Linked DNA regions of Homo sapiens: region 1 is linked to region 2. A link means that fine-mapping ties the variant in region 2 to the plasma level of a protein whose gene starts in the linked region. Region 2 holds a variant in brackets. A gene starts in the other region. All regions are shown on their reverse strands.

Region 1 (10,621 bases), not on the chromosome of region 2:
AATAGTGACACACATGTCAGGGAGAGGTGGGGACCATGAGGATGCTGGGTTAAGAAAGGCCTGATCGCTATAGAGTTTGGCCTTTGCAATGGGGGATGGTGATTCTGAGAATTTCTAATAGGTGGTTCTCGATGAAGTTGGGGTGGAGATAAGGATGCATGTCGGAATCACCCAGAATATATCAAAATTGAAATCTGTACACCAGAAGTAGTGCCCTTCCTCTCGAAGGTTGGGGAGAAAGACATGTGTGTGTAACTCTTATCAACCCAGAACTCAAGTGGTCCAGTTTTGGGTCCATGTTATGGTTACTAACGCACAAAATAAATTTGGAAAAGAACATACAAATCTTTTCTTGTATTTTTCTTGAAAATCATGAAGGAGGTCTATAATTTGCAATAACGAATTCAAAAGTCCTTTTCATCTTCATTCTACCTCCTTCACAGCCTCTGCTGTTGTCTGCTGTATTGCTCTCCAGAATTTTCTCAGATTGCAGAAATCTCCCTCCTCCCGTCTATTTATTTTTATCACGTAAATCAACTTAGCCTCTCTTTCCAGCAAAAAGGTCCAATCAAATTCCCCAACCCTGTCCCAAATGAAGGGTGCGGAACTGAGCTGGCAATTACAGACTATTCTTTGGCAGTATTCTGGGAAAGGGAAAAGTATGAATTTTCTTGCCCTGTCCCTGGTATTTTGTAAAGCTTTCCAAGTGACTTCGATATCTGGACCCTTTTGAGAACTGCCGCTGTTAACCAAGACATAAAGCTTTTTCATTTCTTGAAAGGTCCTATTTCTTGGCAAATTTCTCCCTGCAAAGTGCATTCTTTTTTCTGCACTGACCCCAGAAACAGGTGCCATTGTGTGGGAGACAGCACCTGTCATCTGTCTCAACAAAGTCCACAAAGTGCCCTGCTAGGAGCAGATAACCCAGAACATCTACCTGAGTCTCCCAGTCAAGATTCCTGGTCTGACTAGGAATCTAACTTCAACAAGATCTTCCTGAAAAAAGACGCTGAGCTTGGACGGTCCAACCACCTCCCTACCTGGGATAAGCCGGAGGATGCTTCTTGGCTTCCCCAAAGCTGTCTTGGTGGTGATGCTGTGGCAACCACAGGGGAGATTCACGAGGAGAAAGCCTGGAAGACCAGAGCCCTGGAAGTGGGGCAGCCAGCCCAGCGGGACATTCGTAGGGGCGAGGTGTGATCTCAGCCTTCATTCAGCTGGCCTGGGAGTCCTCCAAGGGTCAGAGTCACACCTTACTAGTCTGACCCCTCAAGGTTCCTTAGGACTCCAGGTGTTTTAAGAAGATTCTCTGAACCCCCACCCTTCCCACTTCACCCCTCAGCCCTCCCTGTGGTTAAGAACCCAAGTGTGAACAACCCCAAGTTTGGTGGTTAGTGAGGCCTTCAAGCACAAACCCTAATCCTGCCCTTTTAAAAAAAATATTTTGGACTTAAGGGAGGCTGTCCTCAATTGTTTCAAACCTATTTCAGAGTACCTCCACTCCTTCAAACCTATTTTCAAAACTCAGGAAAACGTCGCCTTTCCAGACGAACTCTAGTGACAGCTCCATTCACCCCTTGGCATTTGACTGCTAAAGATCAGCTGACCCCTGCAGCCAGAAGGAGGAGAGAAAATTGCTAAATGGGGACCTCATTTCCAGAGGTGATCACCTTAAAAAAGTCTGGGGCCTTGTTTGCCAGCTTTGAAATCTCAAAGGGTAATCTTAGCTTCATGTCCCCAGTGTGAATAAAACAAACAATAAAAACCACCTATGAAATCTAAATTCAAACTTTCTTGCGACCTATGCATCATTTTTTTGCATTCACATTCCCAGTCAAAACACAGACACACACACACACACACCCAACAGATATATAACTGCATGTAAAATATATATAGATAAAACAATGTCCTCTGAAGAATATAAATGTTAACACAAGTAAAATTATCATGAATTCCATAACTCCTTCTGTGGCCTTGGTCCACGTTAGGTTTTCCATTAAGAGATACTATTGTCATCAGTGAGTAGCTTCTCCTGTTGTATTCTTCTGTGTAGCACGGGGCTGGAGCTGTGGATATTTATGAACCCCAGGCACCCACTTCCTGTTTTCGTGGCTGTCCCCGGTCCCTGCCTCTGTGCCGTTTTCTCTGCCTTTGGCCACCAGATGGCGCTCTGGAAACGAGTTTTCTGCATCAAAGCTCCCCTGCATTACTCTCAACTAGGCTCCCTCCCTCTTCTCTGTTCCCTTCCAAGCCATTTTCCAGGGTGCAGCCAAAAGGCCTTTCTGGAGGGCACATCTGTGTGATCTTGGGCAAGTTACCTAACGCTGTGTGCTCAGCATCTTCAATGTGATGGTATGGCTGTGAGTGCGTCATGAGAGGATGTAGGTAAAGCACTTAGGACAAGGCCTGGCATGTGGTCGCTGTTCTCATTATCCTGCGTAGAGCTTTTCAAAAGCACTCCACGACCTTCAGGACAAGGTCTAAATTCTTAGCCATGGGAACCCAGGCCACTGCATCATCTGAGGACCCCTGCTTATGTCCCCTGCCCAACCTTCCTCCCTACACTACTGCACTGACCCTCTTGCAGCACAGCCAGGAGCCAGCCTGCCCACTTCGGGGCCTTTGCCCATTTTGCCCCTGCCACCAGCTTTGCCTGTCTCCTGCCTATTCAACTTCCTCGGGCTCACTCCTCCAGGTCCGTCAGGATTCAGCGTGTGCCCTCCATGAGGAGCCTCCCGGACCCCCAGGCCTGATTCCAGAGCCATTCTACTGGCCTCTCGCCTTTCATTTTCCCTGCCCCCACCTGCGACTGTCAGCCCCTTGCCTTGTTCACTGTCAGGCACACAGGGGGACGATTGCGGGGCGGATAGTGAGACTGTCACGTGGGCTGCCAGCAGGGGGCAATGGGCACCCTTGTGTCCCTGAGCTCCCAGGGGCTCCTAGTAGCTTAGGCAGCACCTTGCCCACACCAAGCTGAGGGAGACCTGAGAAATGGGATTCCTGCCAAAGAGGCAAAGAAAAAAGTGAAGGGACAAATGCAAGGCCATCTTTGCCATTTGCGTATGAGGCATAAAACTTGGAAGATAATAAACAGCAAAATCATAGTCCTTATGTGCTGAGTGCTTTCTCTGAGCCAGGCCCTGTGCTGAGTCCTTACCCCACCTTGTGAGATCGATGACAGCCCTCAGAGAAGGAAACAGAGGCTAGGAGAGGTTAAGTCCCTTGTGCAGTGTCTCAGAGCTTGTGAGTGGCCTGTCTGTCTCCAGGGCCATGCTGTAGGAGGTGGCCCTGGATTCAGGCCCCTTGCTATGGTTTAATGGGTTTCAGTGAAATAGTTGGGAAACCTCAGGAGTGGGATATGGAGTTAAGGGAAAGAAAAGCCAGAGAGAAAGGGAAGGAGTGCAGGTGACTGTCCCTTAGCCACCCCAGTCCTGATGACCACAGGCCTCCATGCCAATAAGCCCTGACTAGTGCCACTTGGGTCCAAACATGGCATCTCTGGCCCCAAGGGCTTAGTAGCAAACACCCATCTAGGGAAGCTGGCGTTCATTCTCATCACCTCAAATGCTTCATGAGCCTCAGGGATCAACCTTGAAGTGGGTATAAGGCTGGGAGAATGTTGGGGGCAGCAAACTGAAGGGCACAATAAGAAGCAATAAGGCCACCTCAAAGCCCACCCAAGCAAACTGCTCATTCACCTCCTTCCTTCCTGAATTTCACCTTATGAGGAGGTGAGTGGAAGATAGGGTATCCCTTAAAACATCTAAAAGGAGAGTTGGGGGCAGCAAAGGAGATGTGCTTCACGGGACTCTTATAAACAAAACTGGGGAGAGAAGAATTGGAGGAAGGGGGAAAGACATAGATGAAAGGGAGGGGAAGGTGTGGGAGAGGGAAACGTATAAAAGCTTCCAAGAGGAGTGGGAGGCTGGGGGTTCCCCAGACAGAGACTCAGTCTGGACCAGATGCAGAGAACAATGGACTTCAAGGCTGGAGGGGGGCAGAAGGGAAGCGGGAGGAGAGCCACACGGTCAAGTTGCACAGGTTCTTGCAGCTTCTGGAATCAAGACCATGGGCACCCTCATAAGTCAGTGTGGGCAGGGACTGCCCCAGGGCCAATCCAAGATCCAGAGGTAGCCATAGGGTGTGACAAGTTGTGCAGATTACAACACTCACCCCTTGCAATAACGTCACTGCCTGTGACTCGGGGCCAGGCCCAGGCCAAAGCCCTTCCTACATCATTTCGTTTAATCCTCACAGTTTCCTGCTGAAAGGGCTACTATTCTTACTCCCATCCCCACTCTACAGATGAGGTAATGGAGGCCCAGGAAAGTTAAGTGACTTGTCCCAGATGACACCGCTGGTAAGTTGCAAAGTCAGAATTTGAACTCAGGCAGTTTACCTCTGATGGCTGCTCTGTTAATCACAGCTGCTTTCCAGTGAGACAAAAACGGGTGATCAGGGCAGAGTCAAGACAGAGAGGTAAACAAGATTGGGAAAAAGACAGGAATGAGAGGGGAACAATGGGGGAAAAGATAGGAACAAAGAGAGTTGGGGAAGGGGAGAGAAACAGGAAACATGACTTGCCCGGGAGGGGCATCAGTCCACGTGCAAGCAGGTGGAGGCTCAAGTTTTCTGCTCACTTGGTGATGCAGAGGCTCCCTTTCCCTCAGCAGCCGCCTTGCTGCGTGGACAGCAGCTTCCCATCTGGCCTGTCCCCGGAGCCCCGGCCTCATCCTCCTCAGCGGCAGGCCACTTAGCTTCACAGGAAATGCTCTTTCTCTAATTGGCATTGAAACTCACAGCCCTCCCTTTTCCTGTAGGTGGGGTTTCCATAGGAAAAAGCTGCTTCTCTGTTTCCCCAGCCTAGCAACTGTTTGGCAGTCAGAGTCCCACATCCTGCTCAACTGGGTCAGGTCCCTCTTAGACCAGCTCTTGTCCATCATTTGCTGAAGTGGACCAACTAGTTCCCCAGTAGGGGGTCTCCCCTGGCAATTCTTGATCGGCGTTTGGACATCTCAGATCGCTTCCAATGAAGATGGCCTTGCCTTGGGGTCCTGCTTGTTTCATAATCATCTAACTATGGGACAAGGTTGTGCCGGCAGCTCTGGGGGAAGGAGCACGGGGCTGATCAAGCCATCCAGGAAACACTGGAGGACTTGTCCAGCCTTGAAAGAACTCTAGTGGTTTCTGAATCTAGCCCACTTGGCGGTAAGCATGATGCAACTTCTGCAACTTCTGCTGGGGCTTTTGGGGCCAGGTGGCTACTTATTTCTTTTAGGGGATTGTCAGGAGGTGACCACTCTCACGGTGAAATACCAAGTGTCAGAGGAAGTGCCATCTGGTACAGTGATCGGGAAGCTGTCCCAGGAACTGGGCCGGGAGGAGAGGCGGAGGCAAGCTGGGGCTGCCTTCCAGGTGTTGCAGCTGCCTCAGGCGCTCCCCATTCAGGTGGACTCTGAGGAAGGCTTGCTCAGCACAGGCAGGCGGCTGGATCGAGAGCAGCTGTGCCGACAGTGGGATCCCTGCCTGGTTTCCTTTGATGTGCTTGCCACAGGGGATTTGGCTCTGATCCATGTGGAGATCCAAGTGCTGGACATCAATGACCACCAGCCACGGTTTCCCAAAGGCGAGCAGGAGCTGGAAATCTCTGAGAGCGCCTCTCTGCGAACCCGGATCCCCCTGGACAGAGCTCTTGACCCAGACACAGGCCCTAACACCCTGCACACCTACACTCTGTCTCCCAGTGAGCACTTTGCCTTGGATGTCATTGTGGGCCCTGATGAGACCAAACATGCAGAACTCATAGTGGTGAAGGAGCTGGACAGGGAAATCCATTCATTTTTTGATCTGGTGTTAACTGCCTATGACAATGGGAACCCCCCCAAGTCAGGTACCAGCTTGGTCAAGGTCAACGTCTTGGACTCCAATGACAATAGCCCTGCGTTTGCTGAGAGTTCACTGGCACTGGAAATCCAAGAAGATGCTGCACCTGGTACGCTTCTCATAAAACTGACCGCCACAGACCCTGACCAAGGCCCCAATGGGGAGGTGGAGTTCTTCCTCAGTAAGCACATGCCTCCAGAGGTGCTGGACACCTTCAGTATTGATGCCAAGACAGGCCAGGTCATTCTGCGTCGACCTCTAGACTATGAAAAGAACCCTGCCTACGAGGTGGATGTTCAGGCAAGGGACCTGGGTCCCAATCCTATCCCAGCCCATTGCAAAGTTCTCATCAAGGTTCTGGATGTCAATGACAACATCCCAAGCATCCACGTCACATGGGCCTCCCAGCCATCACTGGTGTCAGAAGCTCTTCCCAAGGACAGTTTTATTGCTCTTGTCATGGCAGATGACTTGGATTCAGGACACAATGGTTTGGTCCACTGCTGGCTGAGCCAAGAGCTGGGCCACTTCAGGCTGAAAAGAACTAATGGCAACACATACATGTTGCTAACCAATGCCACACTGGACAGAGAGCAGTGGCCCAAATATACCCTCACTCTGTTAGCCCAAGACCAAGGACTCCAGCCCTTATCAGCCAAGAAACAGCTCAGCATTCAGATCAGTGACATCAACGACAATGCACCTGTGTTTGAGAAAAGCAGGTATGAAGTCTCCACGCGGGAAAACAACTTACCCTCTCTTCACCTCATTACCATCAAGGCTCATGATGCAGACTTGGGCATTAATGGAAAAGTCTCATACCGCATCCAGGACTCCCCAGTTGCTCACTTAGTAGCTATTGACTCCAACACAGGAGAGGTCACTGCTCAGAGGTCACTGAACTATGAAGAGATGGCCGGCTTTGAGTTCCAGGTGATCGCAGAGGACAGCGGGCAACCCATGCTTGCATCCAGTGTCTCTGTGTGGGTCAGCCTCTTGGATGCCAATGATAATGCCCCAGAGGTGGTCCAGCCTGTGCTCAGCGATGGAAAAGCCAGCCTCTCCGTGCTTGTGAATGCCTCCACAGGCCACCTGCTGGTGCCCATCGAGACTCCCAATGGCTTGGGCCCAGCGGGCACTGACACACCTCCACTGGCCACTCACAGCTCCCGGCCATTCCTTTTGACAACCATTGTGGCAAGAGATGCAGACTCGGGGGCAAATGGAGAGCCCCTCTACAGCATCCGCAGTGGAAATGAAGCCCACCTCTTCATCCTCAACCCTCATACGGGGCAGCTGTTCGTCAATGTCACCAATGCCAGCAGCCTCATTGGGAGTGAGTGGGAGCTGGAGATAGTAGTAGAGGACCAGGGAAGCCCCCCCTTACAGACCCGAGCCCTGTTGAGGGTCATGTTTGTCACCAGTGTGGACCACCTGAGGGACTCAGCCCGCAAGCCTGGGGCCTTGAGCATGTCGATGCTGACGGTGATCTGCCTGGCTGTACTGTTGGGCATCTTCGGGTTGATCCTGGCTTTGTTCATGTCCATCTGCCGGACAGAAAAGAAGGACAACAGGGCCTACAACTGTCGGGAGGCCGAGTCCACCTACCGCCAGCAGCCCAAGAGGCCCCAGAAACACATTCAGAAGGCAGACATCCACCTCGTGCCTGTGCTCAGGGGTCAGGCAGGTGAGCCTTGTGAAGTCGGGCAGTCCCACAAAGATGTGGACAAGGAGGCGATGATGGAAGCAGGCTGGGACCCCTGCCTGCAGGCCCCCTTCCACCTCACCCCGACCCTGTACAGGACGCTGCGTAATCAAGGCAACCAGGGAGCACCGGCGGAGAGCCGAGAGGTGCTGCAAGACACGGTCAACCTCCTTTTCAACCATCCCAGGCAGAGGAATGCCTCCCGGGAGAACCTGAACCTTCCCGAGCCCCAGCCTGCCACAGGCCAGCCACGTTCCAGGCCTCTGAAGGTTGCAGGCAGCCCCACAGGGAGGCTGGCTGGAGACCAGGGCAGTGAGGAAGCCCCACAGAGGCCACCAGCCTCCTCTGCAACCCTGAGACGGCAGCGACATCTCAATGGCAAAGTGTCCCCTGAGAAAGAATCAGGGCCCCGTCAGATCCTGCGGAGCCTGGTCCGGCTGTCTGTGGCTGCCTTCGCCGAGCGGAACCCCGTGGAGGAGCTCACTGTGGATTCTCCTCCTGTTCAGGTACCTGGGGCATGGGCAGCTCTTTCTCTGGTCACTCCTGGACCACCAGAAACAGAATCAGACACCCCCATAACCTGCACAGTCCTCATGTTTCTTCCTTAGGCTCACCTGGCACTTTCTGATGCTTTGGGTAGCAATGGTTCAGGGCACAGCTTTGTGATCGGCTGAACTTAGCTGTGTGATCCTAGGCAAATTCCTTACTGTCTCTGGGCCTTAGTTGTCTTATCTGTAAATTAGAGATGATAGTAAGAGTATCTACCTTGTAGAGTTGTCCAGAGGATTTGATCAATTAATTCCTATAAGGCATTTATGGTGCCTCACAAGTAGACACACAGCAAAGGTAGTGATTAAGAGTATAAGCTTTGGGCAAGGTTACCTGGGTTCAAATCCTGGCTCCACTTCTTCCTAGCTCTGAACCACAGAGGAAGTTAACATCTCTGTTGAAGATGTCTATGTTAACACCACCCATCTTCTAAGTTTGCTTGAAAATAAAATGAGTGAATGCTCTTAATGCCTGTAGAACAGTGTCCATCTGACATGTAGTCAGTACTCAGCAAATTATTACTATTACTTCCTCAAAGCACTTCTCCATCTCCACTATTTGCCTGCCTTCATCTCATCTGGGCAACTTCCCTATGAAGAAGGCCAGCATAGGCATCATTGCACCCAAACCCAGGTGTTGCAAATAATTTGTCTGAGACCCCAGAGCTTTCCGGCTGGGCCTGCGGATGGGGCAGTGGAAATTACCTTAGAACTTAGCAGTTAGGCAGATTGGAGTTCAGATTTCAACACAGCCACTTAGGAGCTGGGCAACCTTGTACACGTCCTTCAACATCTGAGCCTCATTTTCCTCATCTATAAAATGGGGATTATGAGACCAAACTTACCCTGTGTCTGCCTCCTTAGAGTGTGAGGGCTAAATGGGATGATGAGTGTCAAAATGTCTAAGGACCTGGGATTTTCTAGACACAAGTGGGGAAACCTTTCCAGGGATGATGCCTGATCTCACACCCATATCTGCTTCTGTGAACCTCAGATATTTTCACTGTGCCAGGCTGCCCGCCCAAGGCACACTTCTGTTTGGCCAGGCTATCAGCTCAGGTTTCCTGTGAAGCAAAACACAGTTTCCTTCCCTATTCCCTCCTCAGGAAGCCACCTGGAGATGGCCCAGCTGTTCTCTTAGGAATCTTGCCCTGGGATCGGTGCAGACCCAGAGGCTGCCAGAGCCAACCATTCATTTATCCTTCCATTCATCCATCCATTTATCAGGTGCTTTTTGGATAAACTCTGTGCTGAACACTGTGCTGGCTGCTGGTAGACAGGACAACAGAGAATAGGCCCTGTGGGTGACCCCGCTGAGGTGACAGAAAGAAAGGTGCCCATTTGGGATCAACTTGAGGGTAACAGGCAACTTGCCCAATGCTCATATCTTTCCAGCAGCACATAGAGTCAGATCTGAGTGTAAATTCCAGCCCTCCCACTAATTTCTGTGTAGCCCCTGTGAGCCTCCAATTCCACCTCTGCAAAATGGCCATAATGGTATCTCTTCCCTTAGGCTGTTGTAAGAATTAAATGAGATTATACACCACTGGACAATCACTGTTTATCATGGGATTTATTAATAAGCTCATTTAAACCTCGTAACCCACCATATGACCTGGGTCTCATTAATATGCACTTTTTTTACTGTTGAGGAAACTGAGTAATTTTCTCAGAATGCTTAAGTAATTCCTCAAGGCCACACTGATGGGAACTGGGGCAGGGACATATTTAGGATTTGAACCTGAGTCTGACTGATTCGAGTCTGGGCTGTAACTGTGAAGTGACCCTGAATGACAGTGCTCAGCATAGGGCTTGGCATGTAGGGAGTCATGTCATGAAAAGGCAGCTGTCACTTGAGCAAAGGGTGGCAGGTATCTTAGGAGGGCTTCTGGGCCTGGGCTGGGAGGTGGGATCTTCCCTGAGGCAGGCAATAAGACCCCGAGTCTCCCAAGTCACAGTGAAACCCCAGTCCTGGCCATCTCCTCTTCCAACTCTCCTCTGAGGTTGACACTTCCTACCTCAAGCTGCACAGAGGGGCATGGTGGACCTCCTAAGGGAGGAATGGGGATGGACCCAGGAGGAGGAAGCAGTGTTTCTAGGAATAACAGTGCAAACTCCTTGCTTTTGCAGAGGATTTTTAACTTTTTCAAACCATTTAATCGTGACAACACTGAGAAGAAGGCGTGTGGGTATTTCTAGCCCCCTATTAGAGATGAGGAAACTGAGGTCTGAGGAGGTCTAAAAACCTGTCTAATGCTATACAATAAGCTACAAATGGCCTTGAACTAGAACTCCGCCTCCCAGGACTTGATCTGTTGCCTCTCCCTTCCAATGGCCTATAGGGTCTGGCCGTGATATCTCACCCATCCCCTACTCCATTCTCCAGTCTTTCTGAAACTCTACCTTCTCTTCCAGCCTTTCAGTGTGCAGTGCTTCTGCCTGAAAACCTCCCCACCCCTTGCCCAGACCTTCATTCTCTTTC
Region 2 (10,621 bases):
TTCTCTGGTGTTCTCTTGTATGTCCGTAGAAAATGACTGGCGCAGCTCTGGGACTTTAGTCAGACTTAGAAACACAAATTTCTTGCAGCCTCCTTCTGCTACTGGTTGTAGGATGTTGGTGTTTAGGGAATAATTTTTGTGCCTGCCTTCTTTTACTTGGCAATAATTTTCTATTTATCATATTCAGAGTTTCACTTTTATCCCTTCTGTTGGCAAAATCAAGAAATGAAAATCTCTGACCTGCTCAGACTAAAAATCCCCATTCCACCAAGTGAGGCTTTCTTCAATGAGAGGGCAGTAATTTCCCACTGATTCATAGAAGAACATCACTTTTTTTCCCATGAGCTTTTTGACTGGAAACTTATCTAAACTATTTTACATAAGGTGGTAGTTATCTTGCCACAAATCTGAGTTGCTACAAAATAGCTTTAAACAGTTCTATACAAAGGGAGCATCTTGAATCCAAAATGTAAAGTTTCTGAGCAAAAGTTTAACAAACATTTGTAAAGAGTTTTTAAAAACAAATCCCCCAACTTTTTGTTACCAAATTTCTAAACATTCAGAAACAGTGTAGCAAACACCTCTATATCACCACTCAGATTACATAATTATGAGCATCTTGCCATATATTTTAACATATATCTGTGTCTATTTTTTTGTATAAAACATTTAAAATTGAGTTGCAGATATTGTGACCAGTTACCTCAAAACTGTTTGGCATTCATCCCCTAAATATAACGACATTTTGTTACATAACCACATTATCACCCCTAGGAAAACTAACAATACTTCCTCAATTTTATCTAAAAATCAGTTCAAATTCACATTTCCCAAATTTTTCTTTAATTCAAATGTTATAATTATATTTGGTTGCTATATCTCTTTAGACTTGTGTATTAGAAATGCCATATATGTGTGCCATGTATGTGTGTGTGTATCTATCTATCTATCTATCTATCTATCTATCTATCTATCTATCTATCTACCTACCTACCTAGATACTGACCTTTTGATGAGACCAGAACAGTTGTCCTATAGAAAGAATTTCAGTATGTTGGATTTGTCTGATTTTTCTCTGTAGTGTCATTTAATCCTAACATCATATTGTCAAATGAATTTTATGACAACCAATTCCTATTACCATGTGAAAGTTTTCAGAAGTTGCAGTGGTTTGAACACACAAAATCTTTGTGGTCTGAGAAAGACCTGATTCTTTCACGGTTCAGGAAGACTCGCAACCATAGAATGTCAGAGCAGAACCACCCCTGCCTCCCCCAGTGGACACATTAGAAAACTGAGGCCTAGAAAGGGCAAGTGTGAAGGTGTCTGTTCTATTGCTGTTGTAACAGATGACTGCAAATTAGTGGCTTAAAACAACACAAATTTGTTACCTTATAGTTCTGGAGGTTGGAAGTCCAAAATGGATCTCACTGAGTTAAAGGTACTGGCATTTCTTTCTGGAAAGTTTAAGGGAAAATCTGCTCCTTGCTGTTTCTAGCTTTCAGAGGCCACCTGTGTTCCTTGGCTTCTCGTCACTTCTACCATCTTAAAATCTCTCTCTGACTCTGACCCTGACTCTCCTGCCTCCCTCTTCCACTTATAAGGACCCTTGTGATCCAGCCCACCTGGATACTTTTCCTATCTCAAGGTCATCTGATTAGTGATCATAATTCCATATGCAACCTAATTCCCCTTTGCCACAGAACATAGTTACAGGTTCCAGGGATTAGGACATAGACATATTTGGAGGCCATTATTCTGCCTACCACAGTAAGTGACCTGACAAAAATTATACTGCGAGTTACTCGCAAGAATCCTTTAGTACACTGCCATCTGAAATGTTTGTTTGTTTTGCACTGGAATTTGGTAAAAGGTGATACTATATTGAACCCTGTTCAAGAGAGTTTAATAAAAGAGGCATTAAAGGGATTTTTTTTTTATTATAGAATGGCATTTTTTTTTGAGACGGAGCCTTGCTCTGGACGGAGTCTTGCTCTGTCGCCCAGGCTGGAGTGCAGTGGTGCTATCTCCGCTCACTGCAAGCTCCGCCTCCCGAGTTCACGCCATTCTCCTGCCTCAGCCTCCGGAGTAGCTGGGACTGCAGGCGCCCGCCACCACGCCCGGCTACTTTTTTGTATTTTTTTAAAGTAGAGACGGGGTTTCACTGTGTTAGCCAGGATGGTCTCGATCTCCTAACCTCGTGATCCCCCCACGTCGGCCTCCCAAACTGCTGGGATTTAGAATGAGATTGTTATAACCAGGTGGATGCAGTTTGGTTCTGGAGGATAGTGCTAATTTGTGTATCTGATACATCTGAAGTCAGATCGTTTTACCCGCTAGTTTTGTTAAGGAAGCTGAGTGTTTTCTTTGACTATAATTAGAGAATCCAAATCACTTGAATCTTACTATTAACTTCAACTTGACATCCTAAATTCTATTTGCCTTCTTTTATCAAGCACAGTGAAAGAATCCAAAAATGTAGGAGAGGCATACACACCTTTTGTGGGTTATCTGCTCAAATCAAATCCAAGAGGATCATCCATCAATGTCCAAACTCACACGATGTCAAGACTTACTGCTTTACTAAAAGGTGAGTCTCTGCCGTGGTCTTAGATCCTTTCAAAGTCCACAAGGCTCTGTGGGGTTGACTCTTGTTAGGATAATTTCTATAACTGCCAATGTTGCAAAGAAATTTTTGTTTCTGGCTCGAATAAATATTTTCTCCAGATCAAAATTTTTGTTTCTGGCTTAAATAAATATTTTCTCCAGATCACACTCATTGATGTCTCATGAAATGCAATAGAATATGTCTCATTGATGTTGGTGGGGTTTTTCTGAAGTGGCAAATGAAAATCATTGAATATTGTTGATCAAGTAGGAAAATCCAGTTTATTGGGAAGGGTGAATTATGAGGTTATAGTTAACAGAAGTGAAATGTTTTAAGTTAGTGGTTTTAGATCACATATTGGGGGGAGTCAGACAAGATAGGAAGGAAGAAACTACAGAATCTTGCCTATATAACAGAACAGGGAGTTGAGCCAAGAAAATAGCTAGAGTCAAAACCAAATGTGTCGAGGGATTCAGTTGAACTTTGAAATCTCTACTCTTGGGTGTCCTGATTATGTGGCTGACTCCTTAAGGGTATTATAATGAAAAAAGCCACAGCTCCCACCTTAGGGGAATGTCTGGAAGGAGTCTGGGAGGGGGCTTGGGACCAAGGAAGTGATGTTGAGGGCATGATTTTGAATTTGAAATAATGGTTGTTAAAAAAAAGATTACCCAAGCACTAGGCAAGATGGTCAGGCAGATTTTACTGGAGGGGGCCATGGCAATAGGTGTAGGGACCACTGCAACAGGGTCTTGCCAATCAGACTTAACTCTGACCCCAACCAGTACAAGTGGGGATTCGTAGCGAAGGAGCAGGGTGGTGACTGTGGGTGGAAAATGACTAAGAGGAAACATCAGGGATAAGGGGTGTCTGGCTAAACTAACTTGATAGGATTCTTGCTGCAGGCAGGCCAGGGTGATAAGATATTGAGGGTGGTCAGATACCTAGAGTGGGGGATTTTCCCTAACCTGACTTAACAGGATTCTTGCTCACATTTGATTCAGCAAGGACAGGGAGGGAAGCCCAAGGTTGGGCCTAGTTATGAGGAGCACTCAGAGGAGCTTGACTAAAGTTTTGGTCAAAGGAAAGAGTCTTTGTCCCTGTTATTATTCACACCTGGGAACTCAAGAACTTTTTTTGGGCCTTTCAGCTGTGTTGAATCTTCCATGGAAGTGGCTGTCAGGGGAAGTAAGTGGAGTGTTTCTGTGTATCTGCATTGCGTCATTTATTTTATCCGGTGGCCCTTGCTGCCTGGAAAAGAACCCCAGGGCAATAGGAATTTAGAGTTTATTCTTTTGCATGTTCTTAGGTCCTGGTCAAGAGGGTTGCCTGGAGGGGCAAACAGAAACTAGGTATATCAAAAGATGCTTCCAGGTGAGGAGAGTATATCACCCCCATTAAGGAACCTGGAGGAGACAGGTCTCCAGCAATGGAAGAAGGCTCCAAAGAACACATGAAAGTACCCACAAGCAAAAGAGTCAGCTGTAACTTACTTTCCTTCCTCCCTGTGTCCCAGTTTCGGAGGGATTAACCACGTGTGCACAGAGGAAAGGGCACGGCACAAATGGGGTGAAGGGGGAAATGGCTAACCACACCCTCTTCTCTGACTATAGGCTTGTTCATCTGCAGGAGGCCTGAGCTGAGGAAGGGGAAGAGGCCCAAATGAAACTGTGTTCAGAGTTTTGACTATCACATGAAAGTGTACAAAAGTGAAGTTACTTTAGGATTCTATCCCAAGAGCTTTGCTTGCTCAGTAAGATTGTTACAGTTGTGATGGTCCAGGCTGGAGATGTCTGGGGCCTTCATTAGCATGGTGGGAGGTGGAGGAGGATGATGAGGCACAGAAAGAGGAGACATTGAGCAATGCTAATAACATTTGGTCTGTTTTGTGTTTGGTTGCATAACAAAGTGATGTTAAAAAATTGTTCTTTGAATGTTTTGTCTTCCACCTTATCACAGGTCACCTAATATTGACCAGAGTGTGGGAAATGAATTAGCACTCTCCATAGCCTATCCAGTCAATAATTCTGCTGGATTTACCTCAAGAGCCCAAAAGTGACTTCCTCTAATCTCCTGTCTCCTAGAATCTTGGCTTTCTTAGCCCTTAAATCACAGTTAAAATATATATCTCAGATCTCAGATAAGGCTTTCTTCTGTCCTCCCTTCTTTTCTTCCTTCCTCCCCTCTCTCCTTCCTTTTTACAGCAAAGTTATGTAACTTTACAAAAGAAAAGCAAATGAACAATAAACTCAGTTTCCTCCATCCTATTCCCTCGTTTTGCTTTTCAGTGAAATTGTATTCATGTTATCCTGTGTGGATATCCTATTCTGTGTCCTGTTCTTCCCTAAACATTATTTCTTGAACTTGATTGTGTTTTGACATAGTCCACATGTTTGCACAGCTAATGTCTGTGGGCTCCCTGACATGGAATTATAGCATAATTTCCTTAGCCTGGGTGTTG[G/A]GCGCTGGATCCTCTCCTGTTTTTCTCACAGGACGTCAGCAGTTGCCAGTGCTCCCCGGGTGCAGGCCTACCCTCAATACGGCCCAGACAGGTTCTCTTTTAGCCTGAACACGTTGGTAACTAATTAATTTTGCTGCCTGTTGGATTATTTACTTGGGACTGTGCATAAAAGAGAAATTTCTGGCACAAAGGCTAAGAAGGATCTGTTAAGAAATTTTTAACATTTTGCCAGAAGACGATAAAAAATGTGAACCAGCCAAGAGTTGGTTCACCTAAGGATAAGATCATAAATGGATGAAATGTTAGAAGATCCAGGGGACTTGTTTTTCATTAAGCTCCAGGAAGGCCTTTCTGATATAGTCCAAAGAATTACTTTTTAACCTTGTTGTAAAAGTCTTAATTTGATTTTAAATTTTTTGCTGTCCAACTACAATTTTAGCTGCCTGGCAGACTTTCAGGTTCTCTTTTTTGTGAGTGTTTGACAAACTTTTCTTGTGGCTAATTGAACCAGTCAAATCAGTGAAATTCTTTGGTGTGATTTTTTTTTTTGACTAATAGTATTTTTTATCCTTCCACTGCTTTTTAACATTTTTTATTATGGAAAAAAATTTAAAACTAAAAAAAAGAAAGGGAAATAGAAAAACGAACCTTCCTTTACCTGTCACCCAGCTTCAATGACCATAATTTTCTGCTCTTCCTGTTTTATTTCTCTCCCTTATTCCTTTTTTCCTCCCCATTCTAGTATTTTAAGGCAAATCCCAGACATCATATGATTTCATCCATAAGTACTTAATGCGCATCACATTTTTTTAAATGACCATGGCACAAAGGACAAAGCAAATGGGCTAAAATGTAAACAGTAACTGAATCTGGGCAGTGGGGATTCAAGTGTTCTTTGTACTACTTTTCCTTTGGCAAATTTTCTGTAAGTCTGAAATTATGTCCAAATAAAAGCTTAAACAAATGAACAAACCAAAAACATGACCATAATATTGTCCTATCTGAGAACTCAAGTGACAGATTTTTCTTGTTTTACGATACATTACGCTCATGGAAAGAAATTAAGGAACAAAAGCTCAGAAAAATATTACAAAGAAAATACAAATCACTAATAATTCTAACACCCAGACATAATCACTATTAAATCATTATGCATTTTCTCCAGGCTACTAAATAGACACTTGTTGTACTGGACCCGTATTAACTGCAGTAGGGATGGCACCAGGTTCAAGAGGCTGAAGAAGAGACCTGGAGCCAGCAAAGCAGGCACAGGGTTTCCTGAAGGGGACTTAAATACAGGGCAGTTCAGTGGTGGTGGACTGGATGGGAGAACCTCAACCTCTTGTAAAAAGCATGCAGTTCGCATAGCATGTTCACTTAGCACTCTCCCCCCAGCAACCTCCATCTGGAAACCGTCATTTCTTGTTAACTTATTACTATCAGGTCGGGTTACCATACAACACCAACACACACAAAGACACACATACAAACATATGTGTGTTATTTAAAAAGACAAATAGTACTAATTGGCTTATAATAAAACACACTTGTTGCCACACTCCCCTGTAGCACCCTCCCCTGCAGTGCAAGTTCCCGCTGTCTTTCCATCTCCTCTGCCAGCAGGTTCTCCCTCATAGTAAAATGCCAGGTGTAGTTCAGCCTCCAGCACAGCATCTTGTGGATCTACCACAGCTGTGGAGATAAAAATAAATCATATTTTGCTTATATTTTTCTTAAGAGAGTGTGTTTTTCATGTTGTGTTTGATCTTAAAAATCTTTGTTTTGGGGTGGTAGACACTGCGGACGGGCTTGTTCAGTAGCCACTCTGACCCTCTTCTAGCAGGTCTTCCTCCACTATAGAGGCTGGGAAACAAATGCTACATTTCCAGACTCCTTGACAGCCAGGGCTCTGCATGTGGCTGATATGAGACTTGGAAAGTTGGTGTGAGTGGGGCCAAGCACAGGCAGAGGGATTTGGTTCCTCCAGCTTCAGTGAAGGTTCCAGTGTCCTGTTCTCTGTGTCTTGGTGCTAAGTGGAAGGCAGGGGAGGTTATGAAGCTTTTGCCAGAACACCCTCATAGGGGGATTAGGTATTTCTCCTGGGTGAATTGATCCTGATTGTATAGCAACTAAATTTGGATCACTGAGCCTCCCAAAATGTTATAAGCTTCCTAATACCATATAACAAGTACCTTTCTGCTTGAACTAGTTAGAGTGAATTCTATTGCCTCCAACTAAGAAACCTGACAGAAGAAATCATTGCATTCCATGGTACTTCCTGAGATTTCAAAAGCAAATTCTCTAAGCTTCAGTCACCCATGGTTTTAATAATTATTTATATTTTGCCTATATTCCTGAAGTTCCTTTCAAATCACTTGTTTTATTTGGCAAACAACCATAGTTGGTAATTATGGCAGGTAATAGTCTATCTACTTTTCTTTTTTTGAGACAAAGTCTGGCTCTGTTGCCCAGGCTGGAGTGCAGTGGCTACATCTTGCTTCATTGCAACCTCTGCCTCCTGGACCCAAGGGAGCCTTCCACCTCAGCCTCCCAAGTAGCTGGGATTACAGGTGCATGCCATCATGCCCAGCTAATTTTTTGTATTTTTTGTACAGATGAAGTTTCACCATGTTGCCCAGGCTTGTCTCACACTCCTGACCTCAAATGATCCTCCTGCCTTGGCCTCCTAAAGTGCTGGGATTACAGGCATGAGCTACCATGCCTGGCCTATGTACTTTTCATAGTGGAAAGTGAGACAAAGAAAGCTTAAGTGCCTCATCCAAAGACGTGTAACTTATCTGTCATACTGCCTAGAATCCCCCTCTTTTCCACTATTCTATGTCCTCGGCCCGTTCAGAAATTTAAAAGTCCCATGAAACTCTTGGGAGCTAATTAGAGCTCTGGAAAAATTTGTAGGAGGGGTGACTGACCCAATATGGTGATTCCTATCTAATATGATATGCTTATCTGTTTAAAATTTGGTTGCATGTTTATTTTAAATTCTTTTCTTTATTTTCCTGTTATAATTTTGTGCTTAATATACAAAACTTGGGAAAAATTTAGAAAATCCTAAAGAAGCAGAAACAATTATCCATTAGTCCACTACCAAGCAATCTTCATTTATAATGCTCATCATCACTGGCCATCAGAGAAATGCAAATCAAAACCACAATGAGATACCATCTCACACCAGTTAGAATGGCGATCATTAAAAAGTCAGGAAACAACAGGTGCTGGAGAGGATGTGGAGAAATAGGAACACTTTTACACTGTTGGTGGGACTGTAAACTAGTTCAACCATTGTGGAAGTCAGTGTGGCGATTCCTCAGGGATCTAGAACTAGAAATACCATTTGACCCAGCCATCCCATTACTGGGTATATACCCAAAGGATTAGAAATCATGCTGCTATAAAGACACATGCACACATATGTTTATTGTGGCACTATTCACAATAGCAAAGACTTGGAACCAACCCAAATGTCCAACAACGATAGACTGGATTAAGAAAATGTGGCACATATACACCATGGAATACTATGCAGCCATAAAAAATGAGGAGTTCGTGTCCTTTGTAGGGACATGGATGAAGCTGGAAACCATCATTCTCAGCAAACTAATACAAGGACAAAAAACCAAACACCACGTATTCTCACTCATAGGTGGGAATCGAACAATGAGATCACATGGACACAGGAAGGGGAACATCACACACCAGGGCCTATTGTGGGGTGGGGGGAGGGGGGAGGGATAGCATTAGGAGATATACCTAATGGTAAATGACGAGTTAATGGGTACAGCACACCAACATGGCACATGTATACATATGTAACAAACCTGCACGTTGTGCACATGTACCCTAAAACTTAAAGTATAATAAAAAAAAAAGAATAAAGAAAAATTTGGAGGAGGGGTGACTGACCCAGTATGGTGATTCCTATCTAATATGATATACTTATCTGTTTAAAATTTGGTTGCATGTTTATTTTAAATTCTTTTCTTTATTTTCCTGTTATAATTTTGTGCTTAATGTACAAAACTTGGGAAAAATTTAGAACATCCTAAAGAAGCAGAAACAATTATCCATTAGTCCATTACCAAGCAATCTTCATTTATAATGAGTGTATATTTATAATTTATAAGTTTCTCATTTATAATGAGAGGTCAGATAGAAACAAAACATTTAAAGAAAATCAGGACATTCTGAACAATAACCACATCTTTGGGTTGATATCAACGAAGACAATCACATTCTTCCAAAAACATTTCCTGATGCCTTTACAGGAAATCCTGTAATGACCCCAGGGTTTATTCTTGGGCTTTGATCTCTTACCTATTTTCACCAAACTTGAAAATATTTGCCATCCATGTGCTGAAACTTCAGTCACAGAGTTTGCTGCTTTTATTTGTTCTAACTTCCTGCGCTATCTAGTTACCCAGGTGCCCACATTTTAGAGGCAGGGAGCTGGTGCTGTATCTCTATTATTCCCCCCGCCTCTACCAATAAAATTGTTTTTCTTCTTCTTTTTTTTTTTTTTTGGCAGGGTCTTGCTCTGTCACCCAGGCTGGAGTGCAGTGGTGCAATCACAGCTCAATGCAGCCTTCACCTCCTGGGCTCAAGCAGATCCCCCCACCTCAGCCTCCTGAGTTATCTGCCACTACAGGCGCATGCCACCATGTCCAGCTGTTTTTTTTTTTTATTGTTTGTAGAGATGGGGTTTTGCCATGTTGCCCAGGCTGGTCTTCAACTCTTAGGGCTCAAGTGATCCTCCCACCTCAGCCTCCCAAAGTGCTGGGATTGCAGGCATGAGCCTCTGCATCTGGCCTCAGCTGTTGATTTAAACAGGTACCCCTGCTTGTCTCCACTCCAAGTGTCCTCCACTCTTGTCCAGGGGTCAGGGGAGGGGATGAATGTGGTGGTTATTCCCAACAGAGGAGAAGGTTCCCCTAGCCCCACTCGGTGCTAGAGTCACAGTTGTCCCTCCAGTTCCCAGAGGCACCTTCATGCTGGCTCTGCCCGGCTTCCTGCCCTGTTGGCCTTCACCTAGCAGTTCTCCATTTCTCATACCACTTGCTGAGCTTTTCCTCTCAAGGCTAAGGTTCTTCTTTGGATCCTTGGAATGCACCTTTATTCCTGTGACAGGTTCTACCCTGTGCTTGTTGTTTCCCTGACCCCTGCCTCACTCCTTGCATAATAGCAAAGTCACTCAAAGTTGTCATCCAAGTCTTGATGTTTTTTTTCCATGATCTGGGCCAGGAAAACCAGCATCTCCCAGAGGCTGTGATCTCACTGTGGCAACTTCCTCCCACCTACCCTAATTCCACCCACCTTTGGGAGTATTCTTGTCTCCAGTGGACTCCTAAAATGACCACTCAGGCTCAGACAAATGAGGGCCACCTCCTCCGGTGATTAGCACCCCTTATTGATGTTCCATTATTCTTGTAGCAATAATTATTTCAAATGCAGCAGATGAGCAAAGGGAAGCTCTGGCTGGGCAGAACCAGCCCGTAGCTATGTGATTTCAGCCAGAGCAAAACGACAGACAACATTGC

Which allele goes with the higher level. Alleles are on the strand shown, and positions count from the first base shown. The strength of an association depends on the size of the effect and on how common the allele is.
With allele A in place of G in region 2, the plasma level of the protein whose gene starts at base 4,867 in region 1 is higher (moderate association).

The links. A credible set is the group of variants that fine-mapping cannot tell apart. PIP is the chance, under the fine-mapping model, that this variant and not a neighbour inherited with it causes the effect. Protein levels are from antibody-based Olink assays in UK Biobank. Linkage for the fine-mapping came from a reference panel and not from the study's own genotypes, which makes the PIPs less certain.
Region 1: it holds the start of PCDH12, and the variant in region 2 is the best candidate, but not a certain one, in a credible set for the plasma level of the PCDH12 protein (UK Biobank, PIP 0.82).

What each region holds. Positions count from the first base shown.
Region 1 is chr5:141,952,448-141,963,068 of GRCh38, reverse strand. PCDH12 (protocadherin 12) reads left to right here and starts at 4,867. Exons shown (of 4, transcript NM_016580.4): 1 at 4,867-8,097. The coding sequence starts at 5,218. LOC124901095 (a long non-coding RNA gene) reads left to right here. Exons shown (of 3, transcript XR_007058977.1): 3 at 444-522. It also overlaps a transcript of RNF14 not described here. RefSeq lists enhancers at 4,195-5,100, 5,101-6,007.
Region 2 is chr3:122,289,067-122,299,687 of GRCh38, reverse strand. CASR (calcium sensing receptor) reads right to left here. Exons shown (of 7, transcript NM_000388.4): 7 at 8,059-10,621. Among named protein-coding and RNA genes, the nearest start is that of CSTA, 31 kb to the left of the region's middle. The variant G/A (reference allele first, on the strand shown) is at 5,070.